Regions from separate parts of the Homo sapiens genome. Here region 1 is linked to region 2. The links come from fine-mapping of genetic effects on gene expression. Tissue or cell type: blood mononuclear cells. Region 2 holds a variant in brackets; the other region holds the start of a gene. All regions are shown on one strand. Distances are between the middles of the regions.

What was found. PIP is the estimated chance that this variant, and not a neighbour inherited with it, causes the effect.
Region 1: AIF1L starts here. The variant in region 2 is fine-mapped to the expression of AIF1L in blood mononuclear cells (TOPMed, PIP above 0.99).

Annotation. Positions count from the first base shown.
Region 1 is chr9:131,095,517-131,098,196 of GRCh38, reverse strand. It overlaps AIF1L (allograft inflammatory factor 1 like), which reads right to left and starts at 1,666. Exons shown (of 6, transcript NM_031426.4): 1 at 1,537-1,666; 2 at 1,334-1,395. The coding sequence starts at 1,567. RefSeq lists an enhancer at 830-1,329.
Region 2 is chr9:131,158,970-131,161,649 of GRCh38, reverse strand. NUP214 (nucleoporin 214) reads right to left here. Exons shown (of 36, transcript NM_005085.4): 18 at 2,164-2,267. Among named protein-coding and RNA genes, the nearest start is that of NUP214, 35 kb to the right of the region's middle. The variant G/A (reference allele first, on the strand shown) is at 1,315.

The sequences.
Region 1 (2,680 bases), 63 kb after region 2:
TAGCCAGCGGATGGAAAACAGACAGGCTGCCTACATCCAAGCAGTCCAAGAAAACCAAGGGGGAATCAAGGCTGCACACTGCTGGCAAGAGGCAATACCACAACCTGGCCCCAGGCTCGGACCCGCCTCCCACAGCCTTCTCGGGCTCTGCTGACCTCACCAGCGGCCCACTTCCAGACTGTCAGCTGGGCTTAGACCCTGGGTGTCCAGGGGACCAGAGGAGCCTGCAGGGGGAATGCCAAGCCTTGTTTCAGCGGGCGTGCCTCTGCCACCAGTTAAGAAGGAAACTGGGAGACATCCACCTCAGGAAATAATGCTAGTTCTGTGAGTGCTTCCTGAATGCTGGGTGCTGGGCCATGCAGGCCACGGGCCTTCCCTCTCTGAGCCTGCACAATGCCCTGCTTGGAGATGAGAGGCCCTTTGCTGAGGACCACAGAGCTGGCACACAGTGGAGGCCAGATCTGAGCCCAGGTCTTGCAGAACTTTAAAGCCACTGGCTGTGCTGCCTTTGAGCTTTGGCCAACCCAGACAGGTCCTGATATCTTTCCTTATCTTCTAGAATCTATGTAAATTTATGGAGCTCTCACTGGATGCCTGGCAACAACAGGAAAGATTTCTTTTGAGAAATCCACCAGGACCAGCAAGAAAAGCATTGAATCCCTTAAGGCAATCTTTCCTGAAAGTTGGAGTGAAGAGGAGTGGTGTGTTTGAGGGAGGCGGGAGGCTGGAGACCACGGGGAAGTGCCAGGATCTCTACGCCCATCAGAGTCTTCTATTTGTACTTTTGAATCCCTTATAACAACAATAGCTAAGGCCAGGCGTGGGGGCACATGCCTGTAGTCCCAGCTACTCGGGAGGATGAGGAGGGAGGACCGTTTGAATCCCAAAGGTGGAGGCTGCAATGAGCTGAGATTGGGCCACCGAACTCCAGCCTGGGCGACAGACCAGCAAATGACCCGGAGCCTGTGTTCTGAGCTGGAGAGATCACTGGCCTAGGGCCCTTCCCGCGCCAAATCCTTGGGCTGCTCCCAAGCGGGCTTGCGGGGAGCCACGAGCCGGCTGGCATCCGAGCTCCTGACCCGGCCCCACCTCCCCAGTCCCCAGTTGCAAGAGTAACAACTTGCAACCCGAGACCGGAGGCGGGAGGCGGAGGCGGACCTACCTGGAGTCGGAGGCGACGGGGCTGGGGGCGGAGGGAGGCACCTGAGGGAAGCCCAGGGGAAGGGAAGGAAGAGGGTAGATCTGGAGGCGGGCACGGCCTCGCGGAAGGAGAGGTGGCACCCGCGCAGCGCGCGGCTCGGGACTCGCGTGCTGCCCTGGGCGCGGGGCTTACCCGGTTGATCTCGGCCAGCCTCCTCTCCTGCCGGGCTTTGAGCAAGCCGAACGCCTTCCCTCCTGGAGGAGACAAAGAGGCGGCCTGGGAAGCGGGGTCCTCTTCGGGCCACGCGCCCCCGTCCCCGCCCGCTTCCCGCGCGCGGTGGACCCCGCGGTCCGCCCGGCGCGCACAGGTGGCTGCTCGGGGACGGCGGCGCCTACCTTGGAACCTGTTGCTGAGCTCGCCCGACATGGCGAGCGCGGGGCTCCCGCCGGCTCCAGGCTTCGCGGACGCGGCGAGGGACGAGGAGGAGGCACAGGCGCCTGGTCCGGGCTCCGGCTAGCTGCGTGTGGCCGCGGGACCGAGGGGCGGAGGAACGGCGCGGGCGGCCGACACACCCCTCCCTCCGCTGCCGGCCCCTCCCTCCCTCCCTCCCGCCTCGCCCCTCCCCTCCCGCCTCTCCCCTCCCCTCCCGCCTCTCCCCTCCCCTCCCGCCACCCGCTCCGCGGGCTTCAAAGCGGCTATTATGCGGGACGCTGAGCCCGCCGGCCGACCCCTCTGCTGGAGGACGCGGAAAGTGCAAAGCGCGGGGCGGCCGCACCCCTCCTCTCTGCCCCTCCCCGGACCTCAGCAAGTCCCTGCCACACAAATGAAATGCGAGGATCTTAGCATGAACTCCATGGGGTGGTTGTGAGGACCAAGTGCCGTCGGGGAGTCGGCGCTCAAACATCACTGCTGCCTTTGGGGCAGTGCGGCTGCTGTGACAACAGTGGCCCGTCAAATCAATTGGAATGAATTCGTGTCTTGTTAATAAAAGAGATTTCTTGGGCACTCACAGGCACTTTGCACCGTACACCAGTCATTTCATTCTCAAAACTCCATGAAATAGGACTTGGCATTCCCATTTCCAGAAGAGAAAAGTCAGGAAGCTGGAGCTGGGGCGCAAGGCCACCAGGAGGAAAGACCAGCCCATGACTCCAGGAAGAGCGGAGCTCAGGATGCAGGATAGGGTACCTGTGGCCAGGGTGACCATGAAGTCTAGTGTCCAAATCAGGACAGCCAGAGTCAAGGGAGCACTCCTCATAATGATGCTGGGCCACAGGCATAGACAGGCGCTGTCCAGGGCAGGCAGCGCTAGGAATGGCCCCACCGTGCATCTGACTCCTAGGGTAGGGACCCTGAGATCATCTTTCTTATTTATTTATTTTTTTCGAGGCAGAGTCTTGCTCTGTTGCCCAGAGCTGGAGTGCAGCGGCTTGATCTCGGCTCACTGCAACCTTCGCCTCCGGGTTCAAGTGATTCTCCTGCCTCAGCCTCCCAAGTAGCCGGGACTACAGGCACACACCACCACGCCCAGCTAATGTT
Region 2 (2,680 bases):
TTTTTCCCATTACCTCTTTGAGTTCAGGGCTGACTTGAATGACTGCCTCTGGTAACAAGGTAGTTCAACATATAATTTTTAAAAGGCATTTCAGGCCAGGCGCGGTGGCTCACGCCTGTAATCCCAGCACTCTGGGAGGGCGAGGTGGGTGGATCACGAGGTCAGGAGTTGGAGACCAGCCTAACCAACATGGTGAAACCCCATCTCTACTAAAAATACAAAAATTAGCCAGGTGTGGTGGCACGCACCTGTAATCCCAGCTACTCAAGGAGGCTGAGGCAGGAGAATCGCCTGAACCCCGGAGGCGGAGGTTGCAGTGAGCCGAGATCGCGCCACTGCACTCCAATATGGGTGACACAGCGAGACTTAGTCTCAAAAAAAAAAAAAAAAGGCATTTCAATAGGGTTCAAGGTAATATTCAGGGATGGCCCTGAAACAGAGAAGTGCTATCAAAATAGAAAATTGTACAGATTTAAGAATTTGAACTCTGCAGAAAGAGAACTCAGAAAAGCATAAGTAGTAAATCCACAGAATTGTTACAAAGGAAAAAAAAGCTTGGCTTCTCTTTAAGCATCATGCACTTTCTTACAAGGCTAACTTGTTAATTACCAAAAAGAAATACAACCATTGAGCAGAGCAGAATGTACCCACTGTAAGGTTAGACCATTGTTTCCCTTGTGGGAAAGCAAACCATATGGTTAAACATGAATCAGAACCAGGTGTGTGAGCTAGTTCTCTAATGGGGCCCCACTGCCCATGGAGACAAGTGCTCCAGTCCACAGGCCACAGAATTCTCCCCTTAGATAGTGGCGGAGGAGAGCTTCTCACTTCTATCTCCCTATACCTATCTATGCTGCAAGCTGAGGGTCCTCCAGTTGGGATTTTTAGCCTTTCTCCACATAACACAATGTAATTTATTGAATTGTGCTTACTAAATTATAAGCATATTATAGTCCTGTCCCTGATATCACACCCAGGTTGTCCCACTGAAAAGTACATCAAATAGACCATTTCTTGGTTTGTTTTCATACAGGGCTAGCTAATCATTAATCAAGTGTAGGTGTTTCAGAAATCTAACATTTCATGGCTGATTCATTTTTCAAATTTCTAATGGGCACTTCATGCTCTCATGGTGCATGACATTCTACTCCTTGTGGAAAATATGTGGCTTAAAACCAAATATCTAGGGATAAAAAACTATGCTAAAAGGTTTTCCCATTACTTTGCCATCATTTCTCTCATCTTTTTAATTATCCACACTAATTACAAATGTTTTCTAAAAAAGAAAATTTGAAATATACAGAAGAGTATTAC[G/A]GAAAATTCTCCTTAATCCCGTTTTGCAGATATAACTACGAATATTTTGTTACATCTATTTACTTTTGTACCTCCACATTCTTATTAGCCAATATGCTTTTGTCTTTTTACTTATTAAATTTTTATATTACATCTAATAATTATAGCGAAATAGTTATATATTCATACATTTTGTAGAACATAGAATATGTATTCAATATATTAAATAATTTATTGGAGAACATGCTAGTCAATGGTTACAGGGTATTCTGTAGTTAAGAAAAAAAGCGACCATATTTATTTAGCCACTCCTGTACCTTTAGATAATTAGGCTGAATCCAATTTTTCACTATCATAAATTATACTGCAATATAAATTATTTTATGTAAATTACTGAGTATCATTTGTTGTTTCTATAGAAAAATATTTCAAGTAGAATGACTGTTAAAAAGAATGAACGTTTTGTAGAGATTTTCTCTTTCTTGTTTTTTTTTTTTTGAGATGGGAATTTCGCTCTTGTTGCCCAGGCTGGAGGGCAGTGGCACGATCTCAGCTCACTGCAACCTCCGCCTCCTGGGTTCAAGCGATTCTCCTGCCTCAGCCTCCATAGTAGCTGGGATTATAGGCATGTGCCACCATGCCCGGCTAATTTTGTGTTTTTGGTAGAGACAGGGTTTCTCCATGTTGGTCAGGCTGGTCTCGAACTCCCGATCTCAGGTGATCCACTCGCCTCGGCCTGCCAAAGTGCTGGGATTACAGGCGTGAGCCACCGCACCCGGCCTGGGATTTTCATATGTTCCTAAATAACCTTTTTAAAATGGCAATAGCAATATCTATTCCAACACATTGCAGATGAGAGATCTCATTCACCTTTGTTTTTTCTTTTGTTCCAGATGCTGATCCCACTCCAAGTCTAGAACATCATTCACATCTTGGACAGCAAATTTCACATACTGATGAAGGCGCCGAATTTCCTATAAGAAAAAAATTAAAAGGCAAATAACTTGTTTTTCTGATAGTTTGGGGGAAGATGTATCAAAACAGTCAAAAGAATTCTAAAATACTTCTATATTAAGAACCATAATGAACAAGGAAAACAGAATAGGTTTTAATACGATTTTTAAAACTATATAATTAAAATGAGGCCGGGTGTAGTGGCTCAGGCCTATAATCCCAACACCCTGGGAGGCCAAGGCAGGAGGACTGCTTGAAGCCAGGAGTTAAAGATCAGCCTGGGCAACACAGCAAGACTCTGTCTCTAATAATGTATACAAATAAAAAAGTTACATAAAAAAACTTTATAATTAAAATGAAAAACAAAATTGGCCAGGAGTGGTGGCTCCTCACTTTGGGAGGCTGAGGCAAGCAGATCACTTGAGGTCAGGAG